Regions from separate parts of the Homo sapiens genome. Here all the other regions are linked to region 3. The links come from fine-mapping of genetic effects on gene expression. A gene starts in region 3. Each other region holds a variant in brackets. All regions are shown on one strand. Distances are between the middles of the regions.

What was found. PIP is the estimated chance that this variant, and not a neighbour inherited with it, causes the effect. A credible set is the group of variants that fine-mapping cannot tell apart.
Region 1: its variant is the best candidate, but not a certain one, in a credible set for the expression of HPS6 in whole blood (INTERVAL, PIP 0.59).
Region 2: its variant is the best candidate, but not a certain one, in a credible set for the expression of HPS6 in whole blood (TOPMed, PIP 0.78).
Region 4: its variant is the best candidate, but not a certain one, in a credible set for the expression of HPS6 in whole blood (INTERVAL, PIP 0.85).

The regions. Positions count from the first base shown.
Region 1 is chr10:101,811,836-101,814,580 of GRCh38, reverse strand. OGA (O-GlcNAcase) reads left to right here. Exons shown (of 16, transcript NM_012215.5): 2 at 975-1,026; 3 at 1,454-1,551. Among named protein-coding and RNA genes, the nearest start is that of OGA, 5.2 kb to the left of the region's middle. The variant A/T (reference allele first, on the strand shown) is at 1,425.
Region 2 is chr10:101,967,083-101,969,827 of GRCh38, reverse strand. All of the region lies in intron 20 of ARMH3 (armadillo like helical domain containing 3), which reads left to right. Among named protein-coding and RNA genes, the nearest start is that of ARMH3, 88 kb to the left of the region's middle. The variant T/A (reference allele first, on the strand shown) is at 1,277.
Region 3 is chr10:102,063,689-102,066,389 of GRCh38, reverse strand. HPS6 (HPS6 biogenesis of lysosomal organelles complex 2 subunit 3) reads right to left here and starts at 1,041. Exons shown (of 1, transcript NM_024747.6): 1 at 1-1,041. The coding sequence starts at 915. RefSeq lists a silencer at 620-1,289 and an enhancer at 1,500-1,549.
Region 4 is chr10:101,639,287-101,641,786 of GRCh38, reverse strand. The region is part of intron 5 of FBXW4 (F-box and WD repeat domain containing 4); the gene reads left to right. Among named protein-coding and RNA genes, the nearest start is that of MIR3158-2, 39 kb to the right of the region's middle. The variant AAAAAG/G (reference allele first, on the strand shown) is at 1,298.

The DNA of each region.
Region 1 (2,745 bases), 250 kb after region 3:
TTTTGCTCTGTCACCTAGGCTGGAATGCAATGGCGCGGATCTTGGCTCACCGCAGCCTCCGCCTCCTGGATTCAAGCAGTTCTCCTGCCCTAGCCTCCCAAGTAACTGGAATTCCAGTCCTGGCCAGGAACTTTTTTTAAAAAAGAGGAGCACGATCATAAAATTAAGTCAGATTCTTTCCTAATCCTATCTCTGATTTGTTTTTAATTGCTTTACCTGTTTATCTCCCCTCACCCTTTTGTTGTTGTTGTTTGAGATGGAGTCTTGCTCTGTAGCCCAGGCTGTAGTGCAGTGACGCAGTCTCGGCTCACTGCAAGTCCGTCTCCCAGGTTCAAGTGATTGTTGTTTCTCAGCCTCCCAAATAGCTGGGATTACAGGCATTTGCCACCATACCTGGCTAATTTTTGTATTTTTAGTAGAGACATGGTTTCACCATGTTGGCCAGGCTGGGTCTGGAACTCCTGACCTCAAGTGATCTACCTGCCTCAGCCTCCCAAAGTGCTGGGATTACAGGCGTGGGTCACCTCACCCGGCCTCCCCTCACCCTTTCTAAAGCAGTTTTACTATCATTCTAGGAAGTAATTGTTACTGTTGGCAGCTTGTATTACATTGCTGCCGTTCCCCATTATAAGATTGAGATCTCTTAAAAAATTGGAATTAAATATATTTGGACTTTATCAACAGTGGAAAGATGATAGATGTTTGTTTTAAAATAACTATCACCTAAGTAACTAATGTCATGGTAGAAAAAATAAAAAAAATTACCTAAGCAAAAATGGAATAAAAGTCACCTTGTAACGTCACCACCCAAAGATTAAAGGAACCTTAGTATTTTATTAAATATCCTTCCGATTTGGTGTATTTTATGCTTTTTACAAAATAGGATTGTATTATATGTTTTGTAACTTGCTTTTCTCAATAAAGCTTACCACATTTTAAAACTGAATATAATTTCATTCTTACTTTGAATCTAGGATTTTATGGAAGACCTTGGGTTATGGAACAGAGAAAAGAACTCTTTAGAAGGTAAATCTTCATTATATGAAGGAGAGAGGAGAACCTTAAACTCTTAACATTTTCTTTTGTTTGAAGAAATACTAACAGTGAATAGCCCAGGTGCATTTTGATGGTTTCTCAATTGCAGAAGTTATTTTACCTTGGTCCCTTTTTTCTTCACCTAGGCCTTTGATTTTCAAACTTTTCCTGGGGAGCTGAATAAGTTTTGGGCTTCACCTTACCCAGAGCTGTTGTGTTTTTTAAGAGTGTTTTGTATGTTGGCATACATTGTAATACTTAATTTTTTTAAATTCCACTGATTACAAAAAGGTTAAAAGCTACTGTCATAGAATATTAGCTTTGTATGAGATGGAGATGCTCCAAGAAGAGGGAAATGGAGATTGACAGCCTATGAATGTTGCCTGTTT[A/T]TACATATGTAATTTTCTTTCTCCTTAAGGCTCCAGAAATGGGAATTAAATACATACTTGTATGCCCCAAAAGATGACTACAAACATAGGATGTTTTGGCGAGAGATGTATTCAGTGGAGGAAGCTGGTAATCTTTTTCTTTTTATCCATAAATTCAAAATCTGTGAAGAAAACGGTTATATTTTAAATGTAGTTGTACAAGAATTTTATGACATTTTATTTTTATTTTGTAGGTAGTTTCCTTTTCTTCTATCTGGTAACTATTCAGTTAGCTGAGATTGAAAGAGTGCTCTGCGCTAGCAAGGTCATGACCATATGTGTGATATCATGGGCGTGCTAGGCTGACTCCATCTGTTCTGTGGTCATAGATTGTGCTGCTTACTTCTGCCAGTGGATTAAACAGTGGGCCACTGGGCAAAGAAGTGCTGGAGCTGGGCTAGGCCCAGGGCAAGGCAAGTGAGGCACGTACCTTGGGTGCAAATTTTAAGGGACCCCCAAAAAGTAATCAACATAAATAATATTTTATGCAATTTTTTTAAAAAACCAAAATTAATGCAGAAATTCATGATGTACACAATGCTAAAATTTTAGGTAAAGACAGGATCAGCACTACTGATTGTTCCTTTTGCTTCAGGCTCTAGTATGGCTTGGCCTTGTCAGCAGTTACTGGTCCTTAAACCCTAGTCCAGGAAAGTGGGAAGCCATTAATAGGCTGTCTTTGGGTTTTGTTTTGTTTTGTTTTGTTTTTTGAGACAGAGTCTTGCTCTGTCCCCCAGGCTGGAGTGCAGTGGTGCGATCTCGGCTAACTGCAAACCTCGCCCTCCCGAGTTCAAGAGATTCTGCTGCCTCAGCCTCCCAAAGTGCTGGGATTACAGGCTTGAGCTCCTGTGCCCGGCCGGCCTGCTATGGGTATACTTAACGTTGAGTTGGTTACATAAAATTGATAAAAAGTAGTATAGCATTGAACCGCCAAATTAGAGAGGTGCTTTTCTTTGGGAACTTGTAAATGGTGAAACATTTTTGTACTTGAAATTAAATGGTATACGCATATAGCTAACAAGATATTTGGTTACAGAGCCCAGCCAAGGCACAGAAGGCTGAAAGTTTTCTTGAATTACAAAGAAGCAATTACAGCTTACCCCATCTCCATCTAGTGTTGTGGTTTACTACTCTATTTAAGTGTGCCTTCAACTTAATTACTTTCTGGTGGTGCTGGTAATGAAACTTAATGTGATCAATAATCAAAATAGAGTAAAAATGACTATCTTGAGATACTACTGAAAATTATTCAAAAATATGTCTTATAGTATATACTAGTAGT
Region 2 (2,745 bases), 97 kb after region 3:
CAGAGTCATGATTAGAACTTAGAGTTCCTGACTCCTATGCTCAGACACAGATCACTAAGCAACATTTGCTTGCCTGCAGGAAGAAAGGCCCCCTAAGCCCCCAGAACAATCTGTTCAGCTTCACTGTGCTAAGTAACATCCAAAGCATTCACAGCTTTGTGAAAAAGAAATTGTACATGGCCTGACCTTTTAGATATCTACTGGGAAAAATGGAAAACCCAGGGAGTATCACAGCGTTCTGGATCCAGCTGGCTCTCCTATTACTGGCAGAGGCCTATGACTTCTTGGTTAGGTACATCTCAAGACTGGCAATTGAGAGCCTTTCGTTGGAAGCTTGTTTTACTTTTAAGTGTTGCCATACAGGACTGAAATTTTTCAAGAGAAAGGCTGACTCAAGCCATAGATTTATCTGGCAGTTCTTGTGTAGATGTAGCTTTGATAGTTCAGCAGCCCCTCTTGATTTTGAGAAACTATGCTTTGAACTTTTCATTGTGTGCTTCTTTTAGTTTAGTTTCTTTTTTAAACTTTTAATTTTGATGTAATTATAGACTTACAGGAAGTTGCAAAAATAGTATATAGAGTTTCATGTACCCTTCACCCAGCTTCCTCCAGTGATGACATCTTATATAACTCTACAACATTGCTTCTTTTAGTTTTGAAGAGAGTATCCAGGCGGGAAAGAACATAGCAGTAAAAACTAGAGTAGATGGGAAGGGGAATTTTGGCAGCTGCTATTTCTATCTTGTTTTTAAAATTGCTCTTCCTCATTCTGCTAAATTTTCTCTGATTTAGGCAAATATGTCACAAGATATATTCTAGGCTGATGTGCCTAATTAAGACTGCTTTAGCTTCCATATGCAAAAATAGAGAGCCTCTTTTCCTCTATGGGTGATCAATTCCTCTCAAAATTAGAATGTTCTAATTCAGGGGCATTAGAAGGTATCTTTCTGGTTCTATAATGTAGTTATGAAATATTGTCTACAGCAGTATAGAAAGCCCAAGGACTAAAAAGGAATGCCAGGAAGCTTTTTTCCCTTTCAAATCACTACATTTGGCTGAATCCAAAATTTACACTATTTTGAATCTTTCTCTCATCCCCTCAGAAACTTGGCAGAAGCAAAAGATAAGAATCTCTAACAGGTTTAGCCTGTTACAGGGAGAAAAAGATTCCCACGTAAAAGCCCCCAAAAGAGCAAGAAATCACTTTGTTCTTTTCTCTGTGCATGCAGTCACTTCCTATCCAGAAAAATGTCAACTCTCATAGGCCCATGAGCAT[T/A]TTGTCAAGTAAAAGGGACCAGGGAAGGATTAGCTGTGCTTTTGGTTACTCTGCCTATATTAGTTTCAAAGGGACATGTCATGTGGTTTCATAAGGTATCATCCTTCTCTGGATCTCGAGGGAGCAAGACAAGTCTGTTATTGGTCCTACCTCATTTTGGCAAAAAGTAAAGTTATTGGTTCTGTGTCAGATGGCTCCACTGAGACATGGTCTCATTGACTTTTAGATTTCTTAAAGGGTGATTTTGGCTATCACTCCTTTAGGAAACGGTGGGGGGAAAGGAGCAGGTGGTATAGGGCCCTAGAAGAAGGCAGTGGCTCCTGAGCATGCTTGGTTAGAGGCAGCTGCACAGGGACCCTACATTTCCCAAAGTCTAGGATCTGGGAACTTTCATGTGGAAACTCATTTTCATGAAAAAGAAGAGGCTGGGTGCTAATTGTGAGGTTTGCATTGTCTGCAAGAAAATGGGGAATGGAAGATGGTTGAGAACCTTATTTATTTTTTTTTTTTAGCAGATACACATTGACTGCAAGGAAAATGGTAAGGATGGAAGCAGATTTCCGTTTAAAGAAAGGATTTGTTCTATTTCTGACTCATTTAGAGGAATGTGGAGCCTTTAGTCAGTGCAGGCTGTTGACATACTGACTTGTGTGCTGTGTTCACCTGGAGAGGCTGATAGCATACAGCCAGAGCCATTTCATTTTCTTGTTTGATTCTTTGGCCTCTGTGTCAGTGAAGTGCTTAGGCTTGCATCCAGACAGATGCCTGTATTCTGAAAAGCCACCTAGAGTTGTTCCCCGCCCCCTGCTCCCCCCACGACTGAGTCTTGCTCTGTAGCCCAGGCTGGAGTGCCGTGGCGCGATCCCAGCTCACCGTAACCTCTGCCTCCCTGGTTCAAGCAATTCTCCTGCCTCAGCCTCCCGAGTAGCTGGGAATACAGGCGCACACCACCATGCCTGGCTAATTTTTGTATTTTTAGTAGAGACGGGCTTTTACCATGTTGGCCGGGCTGGTCTTGAACTCCTGACCTTGTGATCCACCTACCTTGGCCTCCCAAAGTGTTAGGATTACAGGCTTGAGCCACCGCATCTGGCTGAGTATTTTTAAATTATTCTACTGGCAGGTGTTGGCTTCAGATTCTCTCCTGCACCACTCTGCTGATTGACAGTGAGCCTGCTGATTGCTGGCAATGTCCCTGGGTAATTGGTGATTTTGTCCAGAGATGCTGGAATTGGCTAGAGTTTATAGTGCTTCCAGGGTTTTGGTGGCATGAGCTTGTTACACTAGTGCTATTTTCATCGTGTCCTTTGAGTTTCTTGACTTCTCTCCTAAGCAACTGAGATGGTAATATTATTCTTTTATTAGTCACTGTGAAATTATCCATCTCTCCTAATGAACAGGTTTTGATTTGGGTTCTGTGGTACCTAAACCTAGCTCCATGCCAGGTCACAAAATCAAGTCTGGGTGAG
Region 3 (2,701 bases):
CTGCAGGGTGCCCACAGCCCGCGTACCACCGTGGGACTGCAATAGGCTCACAGTGCCCCCGAAGTCAAGCAACAGCAGGCCCTGGGGAGTTGGGGCCCAGGTGTGTACAGCCAGTGGCTCCCTGGGGGACAGCAACCCAGGAAGGCCTCGGAGCAGGGTCCGGAAGTCCCATGTGTCCCCTCGTCCAGGATTCAGACTCTTACTGTAGGAGAGACCAAGCCGTGGGGCAGCCACCATCACTTTGCCCTTGCCTGGGCTCCAGATGAGTAGAACGTGGGCCACGCCAGGCCAGGTGGTGGCAGTGGGCACCAGGAAGAGTTGTCTGCAGGAGGCCAGCAGCCCGAAGGCAGGGCAGTGGTGCAGCAGGACGTGTGTGCGGCCCAGGCTGGTGCTAGCTTCCCCGCTGGGCTCCAGAGTCCGGACGCACACACAGTGGCTGAAAGCGGCTGCTGGCGACCCTGACGGGCCCTCGGCCCGGGCCTGCCGCTCCTCGCACCACACCAGGCGGCCTCGGAGCGCCGCCACTGCCACAACGCGGGCTCCCCCGCCCGGACACAGCTCGGTGCTCTGCAGCGGCCGCCAGCCAGGCCCCACGCCCGCGCCCCACACCTCGGCCAGGCCACTCTCCCACACCAGCACCAGCGCCGGCCGCGCTGGCCACGGCAGGAAGAAGGCGTCCAGCGGGGAGGGCTGGCCGGCCGGCCAGGCCCGCTCTAGCTCCGCGCCGGGCCCTCGCGACGCGACTAGCAGCTGTGGGGCTACCGCCCCAGGGGGTCGCAGGAGCAGCAAGTGGCGGCCGTCCGGACTGCCACGGACTCGGACCGCTGAGTCCCCGGCCACCAGCTCCCGGAGCCGCGCCGCGCCGCCGAAGGCGCTCAGGTCCGAGAGCAGCCGCAGAGTCCCCGAGCGCTTCATGGCGCCGCTGCGCGGGAGCGCGCCCAGGCTTTGCCCAGGTCCAGCCGCCCAGCAGGGCGAGGCCCGATTCTCGGGGGAGCGGAGCAGGGCCAAGACTTCCGTCTCCCGTGGATGAGGTGAGCAGAGGCCGGGCCGAGCGTCGACTCCGCCCCGCCCGGCCGGCTCCGGGATGCCTCCCGCAGTCGCTGGGCCGACACTACACGCCCGCCGGGGGAGGAGCCACGGGAGCGCCCCAGGGGCTCAGCGCCTGGACCGCGCCCGCCCGGGCACGCTCTCGGCGCAGGGGGAGGCCCTTCCCCAGACCCCAGGACGCCGCCCAGTGGCCCGGAGTCCCACGCAGGAATAGGGATTCCAGCCCCCTGAGCCCCTCTCCCAAGAATTTCACCCCAATTTACTCATTCAGGAAATTTTCGTTGAGCACATGCTTTGTGCCAGGCTCTGAGTAGACAGCCCTAAACAAAATAGAAAACCTCAACCTCATGGAGATGACAATCTAGTGGAAATAGTAAACATGGCTGGGCGCGGTGGCTCACGCCTATAATCTTAGCACTTTGGGAGGCTGAGGTGGGAGGATTGCTTGAGGCCAGGCGTTCGAGACCAGCCTGAGCAACATAGGCAGACCTTGTCTCTATAAAAATTTTAAAAAGACAGAAAGAAAGAAAGAGAGAGAGAGAGAAGGAAGGAAGGAAAGAAAACCACTTCCATATCACTATGTGACAGCCTTCTCTATCCCCTAGTCCCTTTTACAGATAAGGAGGATGAAGCACAGAGAGATTACGTAACTTAACTAAGATCAAGCAGGTATTAAGTGGTGGAGGTGGGATTTCAACCACAGGCACTCTGGCTCCAGAGTCAGTGCAACAAATCACTTTATCATATCAACAACTCATCACCCAAACCAAAACAGAGAAACATAATTTAGAAGCACTGAGCCTGTGTACCGACTCTTCAGTAACACCTACAAATTTGTATGCAGGGGTCCTTCCACCCCTTGACTGCCTTTTCAGGTGAGCAGTTTTCCTCCTCTCTCCAAGGCCAATCCCTCTTTATGAGCCCTGCCTCTCCTCCCCGGCCCCTACCTTCCTTGAGAACTTGCATCCATTTCTGTTTCACTGCCCTCATTCCGTCCTCAGCATAGAAATACCCTGTCATCTCTCCTGTCTTGGAATTCGTTCTTTCATCCTCATCTCCCCACTTCCACCTCCATCACTCCCTCCCCTTTTCCTTTCTCAGTCAATTTTCTTGCAAGGATGCTACATTTGCCACCTCCACTTTCTTTCCTTCTATCCTCAACCCACTACTTCCCTGAAGTAGCTTTTGCTGAGGTCTTCAAGGACATTTTTATTTGACAGCCTTCTCATTGAAAGTCCCTCCTGTGGTTTGCACTGCATCTTTCCTGGCTGGTTTTCCTTTCCTTTTATTTTATTTTATTTTTTTATTTTTATTTTTAGATAGCACTGCCTTCAGAGTTTTATTTGCCTTTGGTTCATCTTCCTCCATCCTTTATTGATTGATTGATTGAGATAGAGTCTCACTCTGTCGCCCACGTTTGAGTGAAGTGGCACCATCTTGGCTCAGTGCAACCTCTGCCTCCTGGGTTCAAGCGATTCTCCTGCCCAGCCTCCCGAGTAGCTGGGATTAGAGGCACCCACCACCACGCCCACCTAATTTTTGTATTTTCAGTAGAGACAGGGTTTCACCTTGCTGGCCGGGATGGTCTTGATCTCTTGACCTCGTGATCCACATGCCTTGGCCTCCCAAAGTGCTGGGATTACAGGCATGAGCC
Region 4 (2,500 bases), 420 kb after region 3:
TTTCCATAAATAAGCTTTGGTTTCCTCGTACCTAATTTCTGATTTACAACTTCAAATGTCTTTCTGATCTGGGGCCAGGTTCATTAAAAAAAAAGAGAGTGAGAGGGTTTGGGGGGACACACTTAAGGTGTATGTGTATTGTTTTGTTTTTTTTTGAGAAAAAATCTTACATGCACTATGTGAATTTTCTGCTTGGTTTCTCTTGTGTTTTGTGTTTGTGTGCACATGTCACTCAGAGGGATTCAGAAGTAGAATATTTGAGTTTGCTCCTATAGTCAGATTTATTTTTCCCTTAGTTTTTGGGTCATTTGTACCAGGTCAGGGTGGAGAAGAGATAAAAGAAGTTGTAACAAAGGAGTTGCTTGGGGTTACAAAGAAAGATCACAGTCAATTGGTTTTGATTGTGGATGTGTATTTTTAAACTTTAATTCTGAAAATTTTCAAAGATAAAGAGAAAAATAGTAAAATTAACCCCTGTGTTTTCCATCACCATCTTAATTATTTTATGCATGCTTTTTTTCCTTTTTTCCCCCTCAAAGATTCTCCTATCCAATTGTGCATGCTTTTAATTAAAATTAGATGAATACGTGGAAAATATATTTAAATTATCTATCTCTTAAATGCCTGGCATTATGGTTGTTGAAAATGGAAGGGTTGGCTGGGCGCGGTGGCTCATGCCTGTAATCCCAGCACTTTGGGAGGCCGAGGTGGGTGGATCACCTGAGGTCAGGAGTTCGACACCAGCCTGGCCAACATGGTGAAACCCCATCTCTACTAAAAATACAAAAATTAGCTGGGTGTGGTGGCGGGTGCCAGTAATCCCAGCTACTCGGGAGGCTGAGGCAGAAGAATTGCTTGAACCTGGGAGGTGGAGGTTGCAGTGAGCCAAGATCACACCATTGTACTCCAGCCTGAGCGACAGAGTGAGACTTGGTCTCAAAAAAGGCGGGGGTGGGGGAAGGAAGAGTCTAGGTTGGGCAGGGTGGCTCATACCTGTAATCCCAACACTTTGGGAGGCCGAGGCAGGTGGATCACTTGAGGCCAGGAGCGTGAGACCAGCCAGGAGTTTGAGACCATTTGAGACCAATACAGCAAAACCCAATCTCTACTTAAAAAAAAAAAAAAAAATTAGCTGGGGATGGTAGCACATGCCTGTAATCCCATCTATTTGGGAGGCTAAGACACAAGAATCGCTTGAACCCAGGAAGCAGAGGTTGCAGTGAGCCAAGATCATGCCACTGCACTCCAGCCTGGGCAACAGAGTGAGACTCTCTCTCTCAAAAAAAAAAAAAAAAAA[AAAAAG/G]AGAAAGAAAGAAAGAAAAGAAAAGAAAATGGAAGGGTTTGAGAGTAAACCAAACTCTGCCCCATTAGAATGAGTCATGTGGTTTCCAGTAGAACATTCAGTCTCATCAGTCCATAAAAAGGGATTCAAGGGACCAAATCTCTGAAGATCAGGGCCTTGTCCCTTGAAGACTAGACTCCCATCCCTCAAGCAGCATCCTTGTTATTTTCTGTTGTCCAGACCATCTCCTCACCCCCTACTGGGAGTGGGCAGGTAGATTTTTCCTGGCACTGTTCTTAGGCATTGGTATAAGAGAACACCTCATCTCCTTTCTGAAGTTCCAGGCCAGCCTGTGTGGTTCTGTTTCATCTGCTCTCCTAGAAGACCTACCAGGTATTAATTTTGTGGTTGAAGTATCTTCTTAGGCCCCAAGGTGTCCAGTAGAGGCCTGGCAAAGCCCTTTGCTCATCTCTCAGTGAGGACATTCAGTTGGGTGAGAAGCCGAGCAGTTACTGAACAGAGGCTCTATATTACTCAGGACACATTTATTGTAAGTGACAGAAACCAAATTCAAATTCACATAAATAAAACAGAATATTTGGCTCATGAAATCCAAGGGAAAAGGTGAAAAACCAAGCCAAAGGCAGAACTGAAATACACCCTTGGGACTAGCTGAACCAGAGGCCATAGTGCTGCCATGGCTTTATCCTTCTGGGGTGCTCATCTCTTTCTTTATGGTTCTTAGCTCCTTCCTTTCTCCAAGCTGACCAGCTTATTCCATGAGGCTGCCAAGTGCTCCTGAGTTTGGCAGCTCATGGCTTAAATCAGAGAGAGTGACTGGCTTCCAAAAATCCCAGGCCAGTTTTGGGTCAGCTGCGCATCTCTTGATTAATTAACTGTGGCCAGGGAGGGAAAGTCATGTAAGAACATGGTGGATCTCTCAGGAATCACATATATGGAGGGAGAATGTGGGCACACAGAACAATAGGTGTCTACTAGTTGGATAAAGGCCAAATGACTCCATGATGTCCAGTCCCAAAGTGTCTATGTGAATGGTGACTGAGCTCAGAGACCTTGGCTACCAACTCTTAAACAAAGTGAAGAGTCTGATAGGAACTGTTGTACAGCCTTTGACCTCCTCCCCCTCACATTATTACTAGTCAGCAAATAAGGATTCCTCCTTTGTAAGCTGTTGATGGTGTCCTTAGCAAAACCCGCC